Regions from separate parts of the Homo sapiens genome. Here region 1 is linked to region 2. Evidence: fine-mapped expression QTL. Tissue or cell type: cerebral cortex. Region 2 holds a variant in brackets; the other region holds the start of a gene. All regions are shown on one strand. Distances are between the middles of the regions.

Region 1 (8,052 bases), 89 kb before region 2:
AGCCAGTTCACCCGCAGCTGGGACTAGACAAGCAGGTGAAGGTGTGAAAGCCAGGTTTCTTCAGACAAGAGATGCAACAGGTAAAGCGGCGGACGAGAACAGGCCTGCACTGCTGGGGTGGGCATGGAGGGACCCGCGCTGCTGGGGTGGGTGAGGATGGGCGTGTGCCCTGGGGTGGGTGAGGATGGGCGCATGCCCTGGGGTGGGTGAGGATGGGCGTGTGCCACTTGGGTGAGCGAGGATGGGGCACGTGCCGCTGGGGTGGGTGAGGATGGACGTGTGCCCTGGGGTGGGTGAGGACAGGGCCCATGCGTCTGGGGTGGGTGAGGATGGGCGTGTGCCCTGGGGTGGGTGAGGAGGGGCCCGTGTCACTGGGGTGGGCGAGGATGGACGTGTGTCCTGGGGTGGGTGAGGATGGGCGTGTGCCCTGGGGTGGGTGAGGATGGACGTGTGCCCTGGGGTGGGTGAGGATGGACGTGTGCCCTGGGGTGGGTGAGGATGGGGCACGTGCCCTGGGGTGGGTGAGGATGGATGTGTGCCCTGGGGTGGGTGAGGAGGGGGCATGTGCTGGTGAGGAGGGGGCGTGTGCTGTTGGGGTGGGTGAGGACAGGGCCCATGCCCCTGGGGTGGGTGAGGAGGGGCCCATGCCGCTGGGGTGGGCGAGGATGGATGTGTGCCCTGGGGTGGGTGAGGATGGGGTGTGTGCTGCTGGGGTGGGTGAGGACAGGGCCCATGCCCCTGAGGTGGGTGAGGAGGGGCCGGTGCTGCTGGGGTGGGCGAGGATGGACGTGTGCCCTAGGGTGGGTGGCAGCAGCATGAGCTCACACGGTCAATCTACACACATGTAGATTGTTTGTGCATGGGGGTGAGTACACAGGCATGCATCTTCTGGCTCTGTCCACCAAGAGGGCCTAGACACCGGGATACCCCAGTACCAAAGGAAGCACAGGGTGCAGGTCTCGGTCCCCGACGTCACCCTCCAGTGAGAGGACCCCACAGGCCTCGGAGTCTCGGCTGGCACCAAGGCCGGGGCAGGGAAACGTCAGGCTGAGCTTGGAGCACTCACAGTCCCGGAACGTGAGGAAATGCGTGAACGGGAGCAGGGCTTGTGGGGAGGGGACCTGGGAGTCAAGATGAAAGCTCCCACGCGCCGGGTGATAGTTTACTGGATTGTAACCCACAGAATAAAAAGCCGCGAGCCCACAGTGACGCACACGAACAATTCGCTGAGTGAAGAGTCGGTGTACACGGAGCTGCCCTTTCTCCTTCCTGGCCCTGGTGGGAGAATTTTTATCACAAGTGGGTGATGGGTTTTGTCCAGTGCTTTTCCATGTCCGCCGGGATGGAATAAACGTGACGTTTGTCTGTGGCCCTGTCAGTGTACAGCACGTCACGGATCATCTGCATGTGTGCCCAGGACCGGGGCAGTCACCCAGCAGATACGCACGTGGGACCCGGCTTGGCCTCATGGGGTGGCGGCTGTGTCTTGGTTTTCATTTGGTTCAGAAGGTGGGTACGGACCAGGCATGGTGTCTCACGCCTGTCATCCCAGCACTTTGGGAGGCCGAGACAGGTGGATCACTTGAGGTCAGGAGTTTGAGACCAGCCTGGCCAAAACCACCCATCTCTACTAAAAATGCAAACATTAGCTGGGCCTGGTGGCAGGTGCCTGTGATCCCAGCTACTCAGGAGGCTGAGGCAGGAGAATTGCATGAACCCGGGAGGTGGAGGCTGCAGTGAGCCAAGATCGCACCATTGCACTCCAGTCTGGGTGACAGAGGGAGACTCCGTCTCAAAAAAAAAAAATTCCTTCAGGTCCTGCATACCTACGAAACTGTTGACTCAGCTGGTCCAGAGGACCCCACTGACACACGCTGGCCTCACAGCAAAGAAACAGTTTTGAAAGACATCTTTGCTGAGTTTTCCATGCTCAGCTGGCACTCCCTTTCTCTTCGGAGTTCCTGGCCTCCTCAGGAGTCTTGTGGCCTCTCCAGAGGTCTTGCGGCCTCCTCAGGGGCCTGGTCAACCCTCCTTAGTTATAGGAATGGCCTCATTTGAGGAGATTCCCTCCAATAGGAGGGAGACGCTTGCAGAGCAGGATTCATGAACAATCCGTGTAAGTGCGGGGACGATGCCTGGCATGTTACACTCCAGATGCCGGCTGTCAGTAGCGCCGTCACAGTCACTCATGTCTGTGGTTCGCTTCCCACGCCGGGTCTTCAGCCCCATCTACCCACAGGGCCCCAGACTCAACCCCACCATCTCTGTAAATAGAACCACCAGCCACCCACTGCTTAAGCAGAAAGAGTGCCAGGAACGCTTGTGACTTTCCCCCATCCTCACCTCCACTTCCAAACAATGCTGGGGACCAAGCAGGGGTCATGACCCAGATTCTGTGTTTCTGGCTAATGATTAGTTGGGAGTTCCTTTGGAATAAAACCCCAAGTCCTTGCCACAGCTGGCAGGAGCCTGTTCTGCAAACCGCACCCCCTTCTACGTCACCCTCTCTCTGTATCACAGGGCCCCTCTCTGGTCCTCAGACACTGTGGGAGGCTGGAGGGATCAACCCCAGCCCTCTCTTCCCTACCCACCTTCTGAACTAAATGAAAAGCAAGACTCTGCATGAGCACAGGGGGCCAAGCTGGGTCCTACATGTGGATCAGGCTGGGCGGCCGACCCTGGTCGTGGGTGGGCCGACCCGTGTGGGGAGCTTGGGGAGGGCGGCATCCTTCCGCCCGGGAGGGGAGATTAACTCACACACACAAAGCACTAGCTGGTGGCAAAGGACATGCTTTATCATATACGGCAGAGCCATGTGGGCACCGAGAACCCGAGAAAAACCCAGCTCCCCATGAGAAGTGTGTCTGTCCAGCGTCTGGGGGAGGGGCGTGTGGTCCTCAGGAAGGCCATGCAGGGCGCCCACCCGGAGCTCCCCGGGGATGGCCTCTGCGTGCGGCCTCATGACCTTGTGACCTGGGTCTGGCTCTCAGGAGCACCAGGCAGGCAGGGAGGGCATGCCCTGGAGGAGCCCTGCCTGTGGCCGCATTGCCGTTAGAATTTCAATGAGGGGCACTCAGTTTGATGGATGACTCCTGCGGCCCTGGAGGCCTGAGGCCCCACCTGCTCCGTCTGCTCGGGAGACACAACGTCTTGACTCGGCCTCTGTCCCTTTGTCCTCCCTGCCAGGCCTGCCAGCCCTGCGCTGTGACTCTGCCCTGCAGGCCGGGGGGCCGGGTAGACACCCCTCAGGAAGAAAAGCCTCTGCCTGGAGCCGCTAGCCTGTGCTGGGGGGGGCTTGGAGACCCCAGGGTGTGGGCTTCGGGGCTGCAGATGGCCCAGGCGCTGACCCAAATTCAGTGCTCTCGGGGGTGGGTCTGTGTGTCCCTCCACTGGGCCTCTGGACCAGAACCTTCCGGGGACTCCAGCTTCCCTCTGAGACGTCTCGGCCGACCCAGCCCCTCCTATGCGGCGGCCAGCCTGGGGCCCAGTGGGTAGATTTGCTCCTGTACCATCTCAGGGCCGGTGCCCTGCGGAGGGAGAGGCGCTGTCTGTCAAGCCTCACTCTCTCCTGGCGAGGGCTCTGGTTTTCCAGCCACGTCGCTGCATGGAGAGCAACGCACAAAGACAGGGTCTCAGAGGCCACCTGTGCCCACCCTGGTCCTGCCGGATAACTCCTCCCTTCCCTCTTCTCCGGCAGTCAAAGCCCCCGACAGAGGGAACGATGGCCCCGGGGGACACAGCTCCTTTCCCCAGCTGTTCCCAGAGCACAGCTGGCTTCAGCCTGGGTGCAGCCACATCTTACGGGTCCAGCCCGAGTCCGTCCATTTCTGAGGGTCCTGCTGCCCTCCCCTACCTGCCCCCATGCTCCGCAGAGCCCTGCAGAATGAGAGGGTCCTGGACCTGGCTCCTCTGCCTGGGAGAATCTGACGGCTCCGGGTGCAGTCGTAGCCCCAGGAGAGGCCCTGGCGCCCTGACCCCCGGCAGGCAGCGAGGCTGATGTGGGAGGGCGAGGCCGCCCCGCCCTGGCTCTGACAACCCTCCCTGCACTGCTGCCCAACCCTCTCCCCATGCCTCCTCCACCTCCCCCAGGGTTGGCCTGGGAGCCTCCTCCGCTTCCCCCAAGGTTGGCGCCCGGGAGCCGTGCTCTGGGACCACACTCCTCTTTGGCTCTGGGAATTTCTCCTCCCACGTGGAGGCCCCCACAGCAGTGGACACCACCCAGCCAGGCCCACCTGACCGGTCAGGCTCAAACCCTCTGGTACCCGCCCCACCCATAGGACCAGGTGTAAACCAGGCAGCGACACCCCAGACGTGTGGTCTTGGTCAGCTCCCCTGGGCTCCTCTCCCTCCAGCTGGCCCTTCTCTGCCCAGGAAACAGTTTTCTGAAGAGTTCTCCGTTCTCGAGCCTTCCAGCTGCGTGGGAGAGAGTTGACCCCAAGGCTGGGACCACAAGAGGCCAGGGAGGGTGGGCCTGGGATCTGCAGCTCACGGGCTGTGTGACTGTGGGCACGAGATTTCATTTCCTGATTCATAAAGGTGGGGACCGATCAAAGCTACTCCTTGGACCTTTGTGAAGATTAAATGAGTTCAACACGGAGCATTCTTGACCCATGGTGAGTGTCGTAAAACGCTGGCCACTGTAATTTTTCATTTTCCCTTCGGCATTATGACAATATATCCCCAATGGCATAGGATTTTAAGTGAATGTACCGTAATCTGCCCAACCATTCTTTTACTGTGGACACTTGAGTGATTTCCAATCATGTTTACTCTCATTTGTTTTCTTTTTCTTTTTTTTTTTTTTTTGAGATAGTCATGCTCTGTTGCCCAGGCTGGAGTGCAGTAGTGTGATCTCAGCTCACTGCAACCTCTGCCTCCCGGGTTCAAGTGATTCTCCTGCCTCAACCTCCCAAGTAGCTGGGACTACAGGAACACACCAATGCACACAGCTACTTTTTTTTTAACTTTTAGTGGATACGGGGTTTCACCATGTTGTCCAGGCTGGTCTCAAACTCCCAACCTCAGGCGATCCGCCTGCCTCGGCCTCCCAAAGTGCTGGGATTACAGGTGTGAGCCACTGCACCCAGGCTAGTAATATTGACTCTTAGGCTAGTAATATTGACTCTTAGAGCTAACACTCTAACATGGAAAGGAGAAAACAATTGTTTCTCCTTAGGGATTGTTTCCTTAAAATTTGGCCCAGAAACTATAATCCTGAGTCAAATGGTGTCGATGTTCTCATTATCCTGGAAGAATCACGCTGACCTTGGCTTTAAAAGGTTGAATCACCTCGGACTTGCGAACGGCAACGGGTCTCTCACAGAAGCTCGGCCGCACTGGAATATGCAGATGTGTTTGTTTTCATTAGTATTTCTGTGTTTTACCATTTTTCTGAGCTTACTAATTATGTGTTTTACCGATTTTTCTGAGCGTACTAATTATGTTCTATTTAAATGTTCTCTGTGTACTGATCTGTTGCAAATGTAATTTGTAATTACCGGGATCACCCTCAGTGTGATGTGAGGTCTGATCTCCAACCTCTATGCCTCACTGCCTTTGAGAAATGACCTGTTGTTCCTGACACTCTTGCGAGGTGGGTGGATTAAACCCTCTGCCTCTGCTAGCTTTTCTCCCAGGTCTCACACCTGGACCCCCCACCCCCACCAACTCCCCTCCCAGGCCTCCCACCCAGACCCCCACTCCCCTCCTAGGCCTCCCACCTAGACCCCTGCCCCCACCAATTCCCCTTCCAGGCCTCACACCTGGACCCCCACCCCCACTGACTCCCCTCCCAGGCCCCATGCCTGGACCCCCACCAACTCCCCTCCCAGGCCTCATACCTGGACCCCCCACCCCCACCAACTCCCCTCCCAGGCCTCACACCCGGACCCCCACCCACTCCCCTTCTAGGCCTCCCACCTAGACCCCTGCCCCCACCAATTCCCCTTCCAGGCCTCACACCTGGAACCCCACACCCACCAACTCCCCTCCCAGGCCTTACACCTGGACCCCCACCCCCACTGACTCCCCTCCCAGGCCCCATGCCTGGACCCCCACCCCCACCAACTCCCCTCCCAGGCCTCACACCTGGACCCCCCACCCCCACCAACTTCCATCCCAGGCCTCACACCTGGACCCCCACCCCCACCAACTCCCCTCCCAGGCCTCATACCTGGACCCCCCACCCCCACCAACTCCCCTCCCAGGCCTCATACCTGGACCCCCCACCCCCACCAACTCCCCTCCCAGGCCTCACACCTGGACCCCCCACCCCCACCAACTCCCCTCCCAGGCCTCACACCCGGACCCCCACCCACTCCCCTTCTAGGCCTCCCACCTAGACCCCTGCCCCCACCAATTCCCCTTCCAGGCCTCACACCTGGAACCCCACACCCACCAACTCCCCTCCCAGGCCTTACACCTGGACCCCCACCCCCACTGACTCCCCTCCCAGGCCCCATGCCTGGACCCCCACCCCCACCAACTCCCCTCCCAGGCCTCACACCTGGACCCCCCACCCCCACCAACTTCCATCCCAGGCCTCACACCTGGACCCCCACCCCCACCAACTCCCCTCCCAGGCCTCACACCTCGACCCCCCACCCCCCACCCCTCATCCCCACTGACTCCCTTCCCAGGCCTCACACCTGGACCCCCCACCCCCCACCCCCACCAACTTCCATCCCAGGCCTCACACCTGGACCCCCACCCCCACCCCTCATCCCCACCGACTCCCCTCCCAGGCCTCACACCTGGACCCCCACCCCCAATGACTCCCCTCCCAGGCCTCACACCTGGACCCCCACCCTCACCCCTCATCCCCACTGACTCCCCTCCCAGGCCTCACACCTGGACCCCCACCCTCACCCTCATCCCCACCGACTCCCCTCCCAGGCCTCACACCTGGACCCCCATCCCCTACCCCTCATCCCCGCCGACTCCCCTCCCAGGCCTACACCAGGTCCCCCACCCCCTCTTGCCTGTCACAGTGCCTCCTGGAACATGGAACCCCTCTAGCAACTCCCTAATTTTCTTCTATTCATAGCAAATTGTCTCAAAAAATGTGTCTACACCCACCATCCAAGACCCTGCATCCAAGACGCCCCATCCAAGACCACCCCCTCCTCTAGTCACTATATGACCACCTCTCTGCATCTCATTTCCTCAGCCACCCCTGCTGGTCCTGGGTCTGGACTCAGCATGGCCGTGGCTGCACGTGGCTCTTCTCCCCCTTTCCCAGGGCTCTTTCCAGCCCACGGAGCAGAGTGCCACCTCCCTGCCTACCTCAGCCCCAGTTCCCTCAAAGGGCAAACGTTCCACCTGCCGACCCATTTTCCTGCTTTGGGCCGGCCAGGGCCAGGCCTGGTCTTCCCAGCCCTACTGCGGTGCCCGACCCACAGGACAGCCTGGGGGGCATCAAGCCCAATGCCTCTGAGAGCCTGTGAGTGAGTGGCCTCCATGGTGCTGGGGCCGCTCCAGCCGCCTTGCTTGGCCCCCGGGCCTCCCTTCAGGATCTAGATCACACCCAGACACCCGTCCCTGCCTCTGCCCCAGCACCTCCGCCTGGAATGTGAATCCGCAGCTACCTGTGGAGCCGGCGCCTTCTCTCCGTCCTTCTCACACTGAGGGGCACCCCCAGAGAGGTCACCATGGCCCGAACGTCTATCCCCAGAAATTCTTCTGTTGAAACCTTCACTGCCAAGGTGATGCTATTGGGAGGAGGGGCCTTTGGGCGGGTCTGGCCGTGAGGGTCGGCCTCGTAAATGGATTAGTGCCCAGACAAAAGGGACCTCAGAGAGCCCCTCACCGCTTCATTACGTTCGGATGTGGCCAGGAGGCGCTGGCTGTGAACCACAGTCTGCCGGGGCCTGTTAGACTCACAGTCTCCAGAGCTGTGAGCTAAATGTCGGTTGCTTGAAGCCGCCGACGGGGGTGTTTTGCTGTGGCGGCCGGAGTGGCAGAGACTGGGGAGATCCTGGCCACAAAAGCGGCAGGGCCTGCCCCTCCAGTTCCTGTCTAAGCCATCACCATAGGTGCATCCTTCACCACCTG
Region 2 (8,052 bases):
GAGGGGTGCCGGTGGGGGTCTCGGCGGAGGAGGGGTGCCGGTGGGGGTCTCGGCGGAGGAGGGGTGCCGGTGGGGGTCTCGGCGGAGGAGGGGTGCCGGTGGGGGTCTCGGCGGAGGAGGGGTGCCGGTGGGGGTCTCGGCGGAGGAGGGGTGCCGGTGGGGGTCTCGGCGGAGGAGGGGTGCCGGTGGGGGTCTCGGCGGAGGAGGGGTGCCGGTGGGGGTCTCGGCGGAGGAGGGGTGCCGGTGGGGGTCTCGGCGGAGGAGGGGTGCCGGTGGGGGTCTCGGCGGAGGAGGGGTGCCGGTGGGGGTCTCGGCGGAGGAGGGGTGTCGGTGGGGGTCTCGGCGGAGGGCTGCGGCTGAGGTATCTCTGCAGAAGGCTGCAGGTGGGGGTCTCGGCAGGGTGTGCGGGGGACAGCCTTCTTGGGCCAGGCAGGCACCTCGAGGGCACCCTGGCTCCCAGCTGAGGGTGGCTGAAGGCTGAAGGGAGGGGATTTGGGTGCCTTGGGATGGGGAGAGGGCGAGGGGGGCCACAGAGACCTGAGAAGCCCAAAGGGCCGGCGTGGAGGGAAGACACAGCTTTGCAGGGGCAGCGTGACGCCAGCACTGAGCTGTTCTGGACAGCGACCCAGGCGGGCAGGGGCCTCCGGCCCTGGAGCGGGTGGGACCCCTGCTGTCCAGGACGTGGGAGGAGGCCCCCAACCTGCACTGTCCGGCTGGGTGCTCGCTGCAGGCACCCTGGGTGGGTCTGAGCGCGGCTGCTTCTCTCCCGCAGGTCTGGTGAAGCTGGGGGTTCACTGCGTCACCTGCCAGAAGGTGGCCATCAAGATCGTCAACCGTGAGAAGCTCAGCGAGTCGGTGCTGATGAAGGTGGGTGGGGCCGGGGAGGGAGGCGGGGCCGGCGGTGGGGTGGGGCGGGGAATAGCACAGGGGTGGGAGCCAAGGTTGTGGGGACCTGCGGTGCTGGATGCGGGTGGGGGGGCGGGCCCTGCAGGCTCCTGGGCCGCCACACCCCTGCTGGTCCCCTGGTAGGGTGCCTTTGCTCTTGCTCCTCCCTCCAGCCCTGCCCACCTTTCTCCTGCCTCCAAGCAGAGTGGGCACCCCTGAGGGGACAGGCTGCAGCTGGGCAGTTCAGTTGCTGCAGGACCTGCTGTGCTAGCAGGCGGGGCTTCAGTGTTCCCAGCTAGAATGGAGAGGAGTTCCCTGCCTCAGAGCACCCCTCTCCTACCAGGGCACAGCTTGGCAGAGGGGAGCTGCACCTTCCTCTTCCACTGGGGCCTGGCCTCCGTCGGCTCCATCCGGTGGTGTCTGGTCACCATGGAGACCAGGCAGGCCCCCTGGGTGGAGGGTTTCTGGGCTGTGACCCACCTCTCAGTGGGGAGGGGGCGGCCCCGGCTGCTGGGAAGCCTGACCCTGGGTGTAGAGGAAGAGGCTGGGGCTCCCAGCTGCTCCGGGTCCCACCCACAGTGGGACCTGGGCTGGCAGCGTGCGACCCTCCCAGCACTGGGGCCAGTCGAGCCCCCTCCTCTCCCTTCCTCTCCATTCGCTCCTTGGCATGCAGGGCTGCGGGTGGGGCAGGACCCGGGGACGAGGCCAGTGGGAGTGGCCAAGAGAGGGGAGGCTTGTGGAAGGTGCTAAGGGTTGGGGACTGTGACATGTTGGGCACCCCCCAGCTGCTGGGGTGTGGAGGAATTAACCAGACTAAACTGGGGAGGCCTGGGGACCCTATGGGGAGGTGGGGGTGGGGTTAAGGGCTGCTGAGGGCTGCCTGGATGGGGCTGGCAGGGTCCCACCCTGCCTTGGAGGAGAAACAGAGGCCCTGGGAGTGATGGGGCCAGGACAGCGCCTGGCAGAGAGATCCAGTGCGGGGCGTAGCTGGGGAGAGTCCCATGCTGAATTTGGGAGGTGCCTGTGAGCCCCGACTAAAGGAGGGCCTGGGGATGCGGGAAAGGGGAGGTGTCCCTGTCACCTGCAGGCGCTGTGCACAGATGTCCGCCTGGGAGGGAAGGACTTGGGGACAGGCTGGCCAACTCGCCAGGGCTGGGACCCCATCACAAGACTGGCCCTAGCTCCAAAGCCTGGTCCACGCTGGCTCCTGAGGGCTGGGACCCCAGGCCGTGGCCTCACTGGCCCCACCACTGACACGGCCACTTCTTTGTGCTGGGCGGAGCACCAGCTGCCCGTGGCCAGGCTTGCATGTCTGAGGGAGGGGGCCCTGCCCTTACCTCGGAGCAGGACTGGGTGTCCTGAGTCAGGTGCCCTCTGGGGTCACTTCTGCCCCTCCCTGGGGCCCTCCCCACTTGGGGGACAGTACCAGCTGGGAGCCTGTGGATGGGGGGCACGTGCCCTGCCCACGGCCTGCACACCTACTGTATGTCCCACACACAACAGGATGCCTGCCCCCACCTCATGGGGCCCACAGAGGCCTGTCCCGGCCCCTCCTCCTGTGAGGCCTCCACCGTAAGGAAGGGCGGAGCCCAGGCACAGCCTGCCTGGAAGGGCCCTGCATCCGACTGGCTGGGAGCCTGGGAGGCCTTATCTCCAACAGCTCCAGGCCCCATTCCTGAGGCTGGGCTCACAGAGAGGCCCAGGCTGCCTGCCTTCCTGGGCAGTGTGGGGAGGGGCCCTCCTGCTCCAGGGGCCCCCAGTCCTCAGCCCTACAGGCTGGTGTCAGCCCGGCGGCCTGGGCTCCCTCCACTGAGGCCCCTGCCCTCTGCCCTCTCCACCAGCCAGGGCCCCAGCTGAGCAGCCCACGTCCCTGCATCCCCCACAGCTGGCACCAAAGGCCCCTGCGTCCCCCACAGCTGGCACCAAAGGCCCCTGCGTCCCCCACAGCTGGCACCAAAGGCCCCTGCGTCCCCCACAGCTGGCACCAAAGGCCCCTGCGTCCCCCACAGCTGGCACCAAAGGCCCCTGCGACCCCCACAGCTGGCACCAAAGGCCCCTGCGACCCCCACAGCTGGCACCAAAGGCAGTGTCTGTGGGGAGCGATGCGTGCCCCAGCCCTGTGAGCGTGATGTTCTCTGGCCTCTCCCATGCAGGTGGAGCGGGAGATCGCGATCCTGAAGCTCATTGAGCACCCCCACGTCCTAAAGCTGCACGACGTTTATGAAAACAAAAAATATTTGTAGGTATTGCTGGGTCTGAAGAGCTGGGGTGGCGGAGGTGGCAGCTGTCGCTGCAGGGGTGGGTGTCTGGGGCTTGGGGAGCACAGGGGCTGGAGGCCAGGGGCGCCTGCTGCATCCCAGCAGCCCTGGCCCTGCTAGCATGAACACCTGCCTGGGTAGGGTCTCAGCCCAGGCTGCTGTGGTCTCTGCTTCTGGACCAAACCGGAGACCTGGTCTGTGGAGGCTCGCAGAGCCACCAGCCTGAGGCTGGCAAGGGGGAACAGGACCTTCTGGAGGGGAGATAGGAGTTTCAGGGCAAGGGGCAGGAGCACCTGGCCCTCCCCACATGGCCACGCTGAGCCTCCTGGCCTCTGCCCAGGACGTCCCCAGCCCTGGGCAGTGAGCCATGTCTCTATCCCTGAGGCTCCCTCACACGAGGCACAGCCACCAGGATCCCGCCCTGGCTGGACCGTGGCTGAGTGTGGCTGAAAGTGTCACCTCCGCAGCCGCTGAGGCCAGCAGAAATCCCTACCCTGTCCCAGGCATGCCTGGCTGTGAACCCCATCCCCCCAGACCCAGCCTCAGGGAGCTCCTGGGAATGGGCACAGTGGTCACTCACGGCAGTCTCCTCTGTGTGCTCTGATGGGGCTTTCTGACAGATGAGGCGCTGCTGCCCAAGGGCTGTCTGGCCTTGAGCCTCATCTGACCCTCGCTGGTCCCAGGGCGGCGGCGTGACCTGCCAGGTGATCCTAGCCGGGCATCTCTGAGGCATCAGGCTCTGAGGGAGCAGGGAACATACAGGGCTGGGCTGGGGGCTGCCCTCAGGGTGAGCTGGCTGAGGGCCTGGCTGAACCCAGCAGCTCCCCTTCCCCCAGCAGCAACGTCCACGCTTGCTCTGGCCTGGGTTTCTGCATTCTCGTGGGGAGCATGTGCAGGTGGCCAGCTCGTGTGTAGCTGGGGAGAGGAAACCCAGGGTTGGGGTGTGGGGAGCCCGCCTGCCCCACCATGAGCAGGGGCTCAGAAACTGTCACCAGAGGACTGGGGGGGCGGGGGTGGTCCTGGCCCTGATGCTGGCAAGGTGGACTGTGACAAGGGGCATGGCTTCCTCATGGTGACACGGTGCCGGTGCAGTGGGGTCCTGGGGAGGCCTTCTCGGAGGGGAGGGCAGGGGAGTGCGGGGGGGATGGGCACAGCAGGCCAAGGCCCAAGAACAGGAAAGAGCCCAGGAGGTGGGCATGGCCGGGCTCGCGGCTTCTCCCGAGGTCTGGCCCTGGGTGTTGTCCCACCCCCTCTGGACACCATGTGGCCTATGCTGAGCCTTGGGCCTGGCCGCCCCCCTGCCCAGAATCCCACCCTGGCCCCCACCACCTTCCCCTGCCCTGAGGGCTTCACACCTTCCTCTGCCCTGAGGGCTTCACACCTTCCCCTGCCCTGGGGGCTTCACACCCTCCCCTGCCCTGAGGGCTTCACACCTTCCCCTGCCCTGGGGGCTTCATATCTTCCCCTGCCCTGGGGGCTTCACACCTTCCCCTGCCCTGGGGGCTTCACCACAACCTCTGCTCCCATCCCCACACTGGGCCCTTGACTCCTGCCAAAACCAGCTCCTGGGACAGCCAGTCATCCCAGTCCGCACGGCAGCTCTGAGCATGCACCAAGGTGCCACCCCCTTGGCTGTACAGCCCCCCTACATCACCACAGCCACACCAGGGGCCACCACCCTCACAGGCCTCCCCCCCGAGCTGGTTCAGCCTGGGTGGAGCGGCCCCCAAGCAG[C/T]TGCATGCAGCGTCCCACGGGCCTCTCACCAGGAACCAGCCCCTCAGGACCCTCCATGTGGCTGAGACCCCACGGGGGCGGTGCTGGGAGCCCACCAGGGCAGGAAGGGGAGGGCCAGGCCAACCTTTTCCTCACCCCCTTCCCCTGGCCCTCACACCTCCTGTTCCCCCCACAGAGGCCCAGACAGTCCCTGGGCCCCTGGATGCGGCTGCGTGGTCTCCCTGCTCGGTGCCTGTGCCACTGAGGACCACAGGGTGTGAGGGCCAGAGCAGGCAGGGCAGAGTCCCGAGGCTACCCCATGCACCGAGCCTTGGCCCCAGCACCCGCCACACTCAGCCTGTGGGTTCCAAACCCTCCCTGGCGGCTGTGCCCCCAGAACCATCCCTTCACCTGTCCCTCCACCCTCACCCCACCCCACCCCAACCCAGGCTCCTTGAAGACTCATTTGAGGTCCACCCCCAGGAGCCCAGATGGTTTGAGATCCACCATAGTCAGGGCTCCTCTCAGCTGCCCCCCCAGCCAGCAAGAGGATGGGGGCGGCCTGCAGAGAGGCTGGGCCAGGAGGCGGCTGTGGGAGGCCCTGGGATGAGGAGGGGCGGCGGGCAGCCACAGCTGGGCGCACTGGTGGCCCCGTCTCCTGCAGGTACCTGGTGCTAGAACACGTGTCAGGTGGTGAGCTCTTCGACTACCTGGTGAAGAAGGGGAGGCTGACGCCTAAGGAGGCTCGGAAGTTCTTCCGGCAGATCATCTCTGCGCTGGACTTCTGCCACAGCCACTCCATATGGTGAGGCCCCACCCCTGGTGCCCCCCACTCCCCAGGGACCCCCACACCCAGTGCGCTACCACAGATGCCCCCTGTGCCCCAAGGACTACACCCCCTATGGTGCTATTCCGAGGTACACCATGCCCCCCATTAGCTGCCCCTCAAGTGCACCATCTCCTCCTCCCCATTAGCTGCCCCTCAAGTGCACTGTCCCCTCCATTAGCTACCCCTCAAGTGCACCGTCCCCCCATTAGCTGCCCCTCAAGTGCACCGTCCCCCCATAGCGGCCCCTCAAGTGCACCATCCCCCCCATTAACTACCCCTCAAGTGCACCGTCCCCCCCATTAGCGGCCCCTCAAGTGCACCCTCCCCCCCATTAGCTGCCCCTCAAGTGCACCATCCCCCCCATTAACTACCCCTCAAGTGCACCATCCCCCCCATTAGCGGCCCCTCAAGTGCACCGTGCCCCCCATTAGCTGCCCCTCAAGTGCACTGTCCCCCCATAGTGGCCCCTCAGGTGCACCGTCCCCCCCATTAGCTACTCCTCAAGTGCACCATCCCCTCCCCCCCATTAGCTACCCCTCAAGTGCACCGTCCACCCCATTAGCTACCCCTCAAGTGCACCGTCCACCCCATTAGCTACCCCTCAAGTGCACCGTCCCCCCATTAGCTACCCCTCAAGTGCACCATCCCCCTCATTAGCTACCCCTCAGGTGCATCATCCCCTCCTCATTAGCTGCCCCTCAAGTGCACCATCCCCCCCATTAGCTGCCCCTCAAGTGCACTGTCCCCCCATAGTGGCCCCTCAGGTGCACCGTCCCCCCCATTAGCTACTCCTCAAGTGCACCATCCCCTCCCCCCCATTAGCTACCCCTCAAGTGCACCGTCCACCCCATTAGCTACCCCTCAAGTGCACCGTCCACCCCATTAGCTACCCCTCAAGTGCACCGTCCCCCCATTAGCTACCCCTCAAGTGCACCATCCCCCTCATTAGCTACCCCTCAGGTGCATCATCCCCTCCTCATTAGCTGCCCCTCAAGTGCACCGTCCCCCCCATTAGCTACCCCTCAAGTGCACTGTCCCCCCCACCCCATTAGCTACCTCTCAAGTGCACCATGTGCACCAGGTGCTTCCCTTTTCCCCCTGAGGACCCCCTGCACCTCCCCTTTCCCGAGTGGGCAGTGTGTCGGGAAGTTTTCTGCCTGGCACCCACCCAAGCACTCTGGGAGCCCCTCGGCCTTTCCAGGGGCCATTGCTTGCATCCCTACGTGCCTGGGGGCCCTAGGTTGGTCTAGGCCAGAGCAGGTGTGCTAGGGAGCAGGAGGGGGCAGGAAGGAGCCTGCCAGGGTGCAGGAGGGCATGGCAGGAGAAACAGGGATGCCTGACCAAAGGCCAGAGCCAAACGGACCAGGCAGGCGACTTCTGATTGGCTGCCTATGACATCACCAGGCTGGGCTGCTATTGGCCCTTATGTGTGATTGGCGTTTGGAGAGGCAGTGGGCTCTGGGCAGGGGGTCTCCAGGGCGGGGAGGCGCTCAAGGCAGAGACTGGCCCTGTTCAGCCTCACCACCCTCCTCCCCAGCCACAGGGATCTGAAACCTGAAAACCTCCTGCTGGACGAGAAGAACAACATCCGCATCGCAGACTTTGGCATGGCGTCCCTGCAGGTTGGCGACAGCCTGTTGGAGACCAGCTGTGGGTACGTGGCCCTCTGCCCTGGAGAGAGGCTGGGGGACAGGCTGGGCTGGGGGAAGAGGAGCCAGTGGACTGAGAGGCCCCCAGCCTGCCTGAGCCTCCCGGCACCCCACAGGCAGGCCCCCCACAATGTGCCTGAGCCTCCCAGTACCCCACAGCCTGGTGGTGGTGGGGAGACAGGCCTCCCGGCACAGTAAGGGTAGGGGTACAGCCCTGGCCCTGGCCTGCCTGGGAGAGAGGCTGGGACCCACTTACATGCCCCTCTCCTGGGGACCCCCTGGCCCCTGCCCAGCCGAGTGGGCAGACAGCTTTGGGCGCAGCAGAGACCCAGTGCCCCACCTTGATCTCCTCCCAAAAGCCCGCCTGGGGATGCAGGGAATGTGGGGGCGTCTGGCACCACAGCCCTGGAGGCCTCCTTGAGGGCCCTGCGGTGCACCATCACCCTGGGGGGAGGGCCTGGCAGCGCCCGGAGCCCCGCCGCTGACCTCTGCCCTTGCCCGCAGGTCCCCCCACTACGCCTGCCCCGAGGTGATCCGGGTGAGTCAGCGCCGCCGCGTGCAGCTCTGTGGGGCCCAGGGTGGCGGGGACCTGACCCTGGTGGGACCCCAGCCTGCCGCACCCCCAGGTGCTGCTAGGCTGCCTGTCCCCGGGCCGACTCCCTCTGAGCCCAGGCCCTCCAAGGCCCCCGCCCTGCCCTGCGCCCCCCAACAGCCCGGG

What was found. PIP is the estimated chance that this variant, and not a neighbour inherited with it, causes the effect.
Region 1: it holds the start of LINC02689, and the variant in region 2 is fine-mapped to the expression of LINC02689 in cerebral cortex (GTEx, PIP above 0.99).

Annotation. Positions count from the first base shown.
Region 1 is chr11:1,346,150-1,354,201 of GRCh38, forward strand. LINC02689 (long intergenic non-protein coding RNA 2689) reads left to right here and starts at 4,158. Exons shown (of 5, transcript XR_930972.2): 1 at 4,158-4,613. RefSeq lists enhancers at 2,425-2,977, 7,258-8,005.
Region 2 is chr11:1,435,268-1,443,319 of GRCh38, forward strand. BRSK2 (BR serine/threonine kinase 2) reads left to right here. Exons shown (of 20, transcript NM_001256627.2): 2 at 773-867; 3 at 3,039-3,124; 4 at 5,521-5,661; 5 at 7,223-7,339; 6 at 7,839-7,872. Among named protein-coding and RNA genes, the nearest start is that of MOB2, 47 kb to the right of the region's middle. RefSeq lists an enhancer at 1,581-2,319. The variant C/T (reference allele first, on the strand shown) is at 4,878.